2 linked regions of the Homo sapiens genome follow. The protein of the gene in region 2 purifies or fractionates together with the protein of the main gene of each other region. This does not show direct contact. Each region holds a gene or a part of one and is shown on either strand. Other genes may lie near its edges.

What was found.
Region 1: the proteins of N4BP2 (region 2) and NPHP4 purify together in Homo sapiens (co-immunoprecipitation; one large-scale study listed by IntAct). This does not show direct contact.

The regions. Positions count from the first base shown.
Region 1 is NC_000001.11:5,982,275-5,985,930, forward strand, and holds part of NPHP4 (nephrocystin-4), read right to left. Parts: intron 1-3,656. UniProt on the Homo sapiens protein: Involved in the organization of apical junctions; the function is proposed to implicate a NPHP1-4-8 module. Does not seem to be strictly required for ciliogenesis. Required for building functional cilia.
Region 2 is NC_000004.12:40,115,736-40,119,391, forward strand, and holds part of N4BP2 (NEDD4-binding protein 2), read left to right. Parts: intron 1-2,133; coding exon 2,134-2,289; intron 2,290-3,656. UniProt on the Homo sapiens protein: Has 5'-polynucleotide kinase and nicking endonuclease activity. May play a role in DNA repair or recombination.

The sequences.
Region 1 (3,656 bases), on a different chromosome or scaffold from region 2:
AGATTGTAATATTATATTTTTACTGTTTTTTCTATGTTTGATATACCGTTGTGTTACAATTGCCAATGGTATTCAGTACAGTAATGTGCCATACAGGTTTGTAGCCTAGAAGCAACAGGCTATACCATGGAGCCTAGGTGTGAGGCAGGCTCTACCCTCTAGGTTTACGTAAGTACATCCTATGATGTTTGCACAATGACAAAATCACCTAACACCATTTCTCAGAATGTGTCGGCACTGTCAAGGAACCATGCATAACTGTATTTACCATTTCCTTCCTTCTAGTTACTTTGTATCTAATTTGTTCCTTTATTTAGGTTTGTATCTAATTTGTTCCTTTATTTAGGTTGTTAAGGAGGAAACAGACGTCACTGATTTTATACCTTCTTCTTTTCTAATATAGTCATGTAAAGCTATACATTTCCCTCAAAGAACTGTATTAGTTATATCCTATAAATCTGTATATTTTCTTCCATTACTCAGTTCAAATTATTTTCTAATTTCCCTATTAATTCTTCTTTGATCCAGTATGTTAATTTCCTATTTGAGGATTTTCTAGATCTCATATTATTTATTTCTAACTTAAAAGCACAGTAGTCGATAAACATACTCTATAATTTGGGTCCTTTGAAGCTTATTGGGACATTTTAATGGCCCAGCATACGGTCTATCTTGGTGACTGTTCCATATGAACTTGGGAAGAACGTGTTCTCTAGCTTTGTTGGGAGTGGTGTTTAAGAGATGACAGGGTGATTGATGGTACACTTGGGAAGAATGTGTACTCTAGCTTTCTTGGGAGTAGCGTTAAGAGATGACAAGGTGATTGACGGTATTCTTCAGAGCTTCCAAATCCCTATGAGTGTTCTGATCTATCTGTTTTTTCAATAATTGAGAGAAGAAGAGTTAAAAGTCTCCAACCATGATTATGAATCTGAATATAGTTCCCTTTAGTTCTGTCCAATTTTGCTCTTTTGTACAAAAGAGTTATCAGAACAGACCTTACTGTTATGCTTTGAAAGACCAGCTTAGAAGTCTGCCCTTTTGCTGGAGTCTGGGAACTTAGATTTCAAGAGAGTTCCTACCACCTAACTGGTAAGAGGAGCTCACTGTGCCTAAACTGTTTATGTACTGTGGCTTATGCTAAACACGTGTTTCCCTTCTGAGAGTCTGGAATTTTGGACATGCTACACAACATTTCACGTGTGTTGTTACAATTCATTGCTGGAGGAATCAAACGCATCCTGTGTGACTCAACTGAGAGAGGACTCTTGGAAGCTTGTACCCTCTTCCCTCAGACATCCCCCATATGCCTCCTCCCTTTGCTGATCTTGCTCTGTATCCTTCTGCTGGATCAACCTTAGCTGAGAGTATGACTACATGCTGAGTCATGTGAGTCCTCTTAGAGACTCTTCAAACCTGGGAGGTGGTCTTGGAGGCCCCTAACACAAGTGCATACACATTTAGAGATTGTTACGTTTCCTTGATGATCACTGTCTTTATGAGGTGCCCCTTTATTTCTGGGAATACTCTTCACCTTGAAATCTACTTTTTCTGATACTAGTATAGATGCAAAGCTTTCTTTGCTTAGTATGTACATGGTTTATATTTTTCCACCCTTCTACCTGCAACCTGTTTACGTCTTTATGCTTAGAGTGCACTTTTTTGTAAACAACATGTAATTGGGTTTTAAATAACTTTTAACATACGACTTTGGATCAGGAATTCCACTTCTAGGAATTATTCTACAGACATATCTGTACATGAAAAAAATGAGGTTATTCACTGTAGCAGTGCCTATAATAGCAAATGACTGGGAAAAGTCTAAATGTTCATCAATCACGGCCTCACTCAATAAATGATGGCTCATTCATATAAAGAAACACCTTGCGGTCTTAAGAACAATAAAATTTTCTTCATGTAATAACATGAATGATCGATAAGACATACTGCCTGAATTTTTTTGAAAAGCAAGGTACAGTGCCGGGCATGTGGCTACACCTGTAATCCCAGCACTTTGGGAGGTAGAGGCGGGCAGATCACCTGAGCTCAGGAGTTTGAAACCAGCCTGGCCAACATGGTGAAACCCCGACTCTACCAAAAATACAAAAACTTAGCCGGGCATGGTGGCGCACATCTGTGGTCCCAGCTACTTGGGAGGCTGAGGAAGGAGGATCACTTGAGCTCAGGGGGAGGAGGTTTACAGTGAGCTGAGATCACACCACTGCACTACAGCCTGGGTGACAGAGTGAGACTTCATCTCAAAAAAAAAGAAAGAATGGTACAGAACGGAATACAGGAAGTACCATTTGCATTTTAAAAAGGAAAAATAAATGTAGGTATATTTACTTGTATTTGCTTAGAATTTAAGAAAGTTGTACGAAAACACACTGTATCTAGGGTGATACACCAGGTGCCTGGGGATGCCATGGGATGATTCACTTTTCCTCTGCATCCTTGTCAACTTTGAACTACGTGCATTACCTTTTCACAAATAAAAATAAAATGAAATGGGGAAATAAAATTTCCTTTGCAAAACTCCTAGGAAAGAGGGAAGGGCTATCAACTATCCTGTGAGCTTCTGGAAGGCGGCTGAGCCAGACCAGGAGGGTGGCATCCCAGCTAAAGCCGTCGCCCTGGGCAGCTGGCTTCACTCTTAATTAGCAGGTGCTGCTGCTCGTCTATAAAACGGGAGTAAGGTGGTGGCAGCCTCATAGAGCTGCTCTGAGGATTAAGTGAATGAACACAGTGAAGTGCTAGAAGTAAAGCTACAAAAGCAGCAGCCACCACAGTACCTACCACAGTGGCAAAGACACAGCAGGTGCTCAATCCAAGGGCTTGGAATTGAACGATATAGAACATCAGTGATTTAATAATAGTAAATTAGTCACAGACCCGGGGCTCCAACAACTGAATATATGTGAATATCACTCTCCCAGCTGCAGAGGAAAACGGCCTTGCCAAGCCAAATCCTGTAAAAAGGGTTGACAATGGCAAGACTGATCCTTCTCACGCATTCCCACCGGCCACTGGGCCTCACGAGGACAATCCAATCGTGTGGGTGTCCCGTGGGCAGCAGCACAGAAGCACCAGCTTGTCCAGCAGGTTCCCCGCCAGCTGAAGGGCACAGATGGATGTGCCGCCATCAGGGCCTGGGCCTGAGTGTGCCCAAGGCCGTGGTACATCCAGCCACGCACAGAGCTGCCAGAATGCCCGTAGCTCAGCCCCTGCAGTCCTCACTGCCAGGCTGAAAGCGGGCCATGCTGAGCCATGCACAAGGCCACCTGGCTCACAAATAACCCAGGAAATCAGAGTACTTGGGTTTTTAAATTGCTCCACTGTGGGCAGAAAGAAACCCTACCCAGAGTCAAAAGTGCTGACCATGTCATTGAATCATAGATTCTCTTTGCTGATGGGCCACTTTGCATCCGAATACTGCCAAGGCCCAAGGTAATGGGTATGGTGGTATAAGACTCAAACGAGTAAGTGAAAATCAATACAGATGCTCTTTGACCTATGATGGGACTCTATCCTGTTTAAGTTGAAAATGTCATAAGTTCAAATGCATTTAATACCCTTAACCTACTGTACATCAGAGCTTAGCGTGGCCCAGCTTCAACATGGTCAGAACACTTGCATGTTCCTACAACTGGGCAAAG
Region 2 (3,656 bases):
CACTGACATTTATAAGATTTTTTTGGCCTAGTTAAGTGTTGATTTTTTATACATTTCATATTTGCTTGATAAGAATGTACATGATTACAATGTGTTAATATATCCATTAAATCATGCTTATTGTTACTCATATCTCCTGTATTTGAGAGATGAATGTTGAAATCTCCCTTTATTATGTTGAACTTGTGGTTTCTCCTTATAATTCTGCCTATGTTTGCTTTACATATTTGGAGGGTAGTTTTTGAAATGTATACAAGCTTAAGATTTTTATATCACCCTAATTAATTGAACCTTTTATTATTTTCTAGTGATTTTCTTTTGTCTTTAGTAGTGATTTTTGTTGTAAAGTGTAATTTGTCTAATATTGATAGACCTACATCAGCTTCCTTTTAGTTAGTATTTGTTACTTCTTTTTTCATACTTTTACTTTGAATATTTTTATGTTCGATGTATCTCTTGTAAGCATGATGGCTGGATTTTTTGAAATCCACTCTGTCCACCTTGACTTTTAACTGATAAACTTAGTTCTTTTATGGTTATTTTGGTTATTCATATAATTGATCTTGTTTCTTAGAATTATTCATATAATTGATCTTGTCTCATTCTGTGCTTTTTGTTTATCTCGCCTTTTCTGTGATTGTTCTTCTATTATAGAAAATGATGTAGTTGGATTTTTTTCCTATCATGCCTTATTTAAAATTTTTAAAATTGTTTCCAAATTTTTGTATTAAATTTTTTTCTTCTCTACTAATTTGGAAATTGTGCAGACTTTAAATCTAAAGTCAAACCATTTTCTTGGCTTTCCTCCTCACGCATACGAAGACTTTAAAACATTTTAATTCTGACACTTGCCTCCCTCTCAATTTACATGCTCTCATTGTCCAGAATATACAGGTAGTGTTTATTTTCACTTATTCATCTAGTTATTGCTTTCTGCTTCATTTTTTTCTTGCATCATATACCTTTCATCTGGGAATTGCCTTCTGCCTGATGTTCATCTTTGAGAATTTTCTTTATAGTAAGGGTCTGCTTGGTGTCAAATTCTTTTTTTAAAATCTGCAGATCTTTTTATTGCCCTCATTCTTGTAAGATACTTTTGCTGGATATGTATATTCTATACTGACAGTTATTTTCTGTTGTTGAAGATAACACTTCACTCCCTTCTGACTTACATTATTATTGTTGTTAAGTCAGCTGTCATTCTAATTGTTTCTTTGTAGATAACTAGTTTTAAAATGATTTTTTAAAATTTCTGGTTGCTTTTAATATCATCTCTTTGTCTTTGGTGAATGACAATTTCAGTACTATGTTTCTAGTTATGGATTTCTTATTTTTTTATCTTGTTTGGCATTTGTTGGCTTCTGAAATTAAGGGATTGGTGTTTTTCATCAGTTCTGGAAAATTCTCAGCATTTTTCTTTACATTGCTTCCGTCCCATGCATTCTCTTCTCTTTCCGGGACTTAGATTAGATGTATACTAGAACTTTTGGCTCTGGCTCCTATGACCCTTAACCTCTCTTTCATATTTTCTATCTCTTTGCTTCTCTGTGATCTGAAACCAGACAAGATCGAGGTAGGTAAATATGAAAGCCAGATTTGCCCAACTGGCAAATGCATATATTATCCCTGGGATCCAGTCACAAAGCCTTGAATTCAACCCAAGACAGGAAAGTTGCAATTGAGATGTTTTCATTAAGACCAAACCTTTGAGGGGCTAAAGCATAACATCTGGCCTCCTGGCAGGTATAAACCTAGATGCTGTGTGAAAGTACTCCGAGTTGAAGGCCTCAGAATTCTCATATATTAAGTTCAACCAAATATGAGCTTATAATAAAAAACATTTTTGAAAAAGGCACTATGAGTGAAAACACAAACAACTAACTTCATATTTGAACATCTAGAAACTTCAAATACTAGAATTTTTTTTCTTTGTTTGAACTTAAGTGTATAATTTAAGAAATCCTTAATAAAATGAAAATTAGAATCAAATTGTATATATTGTGGTCACAATAAAGCAGCTTTGATATTCGTATCTATTAGAAATATATTATTGTTTTCCTAGACATATGTTCTGATTTTTAAAAACTTAATTATCAATATTCCTTCAACCCTTTTTTCCCCTGGAATTTTCAGGCGTAACATTCATGGGGTAAGCAAAGAAAAAATAACAAGAATGTTGGAACATTATCAACGTTTTGTTTCAGTGCCAATAATTATGAGTTCTTCGGTTCCAGAGAAAATTGAACGTATTGAGTTGTGTGCATATTCTTGTGAGGATAGAAGCACTAGGTAGGTTAAAATGCCTTATGTACAAAATTCAATTTGAAATATAATTTTTAAAAGGTATAATTTTGGAGCTTGTGGAATCATTGCTGATAAACTTTAAAAATAAGGTGGACTTGGCTGGGTGTGGTGGCTCACACCTGTAATCCCAGCAGTTTGGGAGGCCGAGGCAGGTGGATCACCTGAGGTCAGGAGTTCGAGACCAGCCTGACCAACATGGAGAAACCCGTCTCCACTAAAAGTACAAAATTAGCCTGGCTGGTGGCGCATGCCTGCAATCTCAGCTGCTTGGGAGGCTGAGGTAGGAGAATTGCTTGAACCCTGGAGGCAGAGGTTGCGGTGAGCTGAGGTTGCGGTGAGCCGAGATTGCGCCATTGCATTCCACCCTGGGCAACAAGAGCAAAACTCCATTTCAAAAAATAAATAAATAAATAAGGTGGACTTTTGTTATTTTTAAGGATTTACTTATAGTCTTACCTAGGGTGGGATATATGTAGTTATCAAGAGAAGTACAAGTTCATATGAGAGATGACATGACAGTTCTTTTATTGTCCTCAGAGTTTTGTGAGTCCGTGATTATGCTATGAATTCTCCTGCCAGTTTTACTTGACGCTCGCTGCTAATCCAGTATTTCCCTTATCTTCTCGCTGTTATTATTTTGTATCCACTCAAATCACTTCTTAATTTCCTTAAGTTTTAATGAAAATACTCTTTCAAGCTAGTGTTATAAAAATTATTAACAGTACACTTTTACCAAGTAATACAAGTCATGGCCTTCTGACAATTTGCAATCCAAGGTAGCACTGATTCTGTTTAGCAACGAAGACACATAAACAATTGAATAAATAAAAACAGCATTAACTGACAGACAGAGTAAAGAAGAAACCACAGGTCTGAATTATCCATATGTTTTGATGGTAAGGGATAGAGAGCTTCTGTTAAAAAGGAGTTGGGAATGGGGAAGAGAAAATTTATAAATGCTTTTTTGATTGAGAAACAGTGTTGCAAAGTGGTTAAGAGCATGGACTCTTGAGCTATATTTCCTGGGTTCAAAAAGTCCCAAAGCTTTGTCATCTCTGACAAGTTACAAATCTTTCTGTACTTCAGCTCTTCATTTCTAAAATGCCAGTAATAACACTCTGCTCATAAAAATCTTATAAGGATTATGAATTAGTACATGCAAGGGACTTAAAGTAGCATCATCTAACACATAGAAAACTCAGCGTTAGGTATGATTTCACTTAGGAAGGCATCCTGCGAGAGTTGGGACTTCGAGCACTCCTGAAGTTAAAAAAAAGAGGAAATGCATTGACAAATTTAATCGAGAAAAATTAACTAAAGTTGAGAGTATAATGATTTGCACAAGTGCTCTG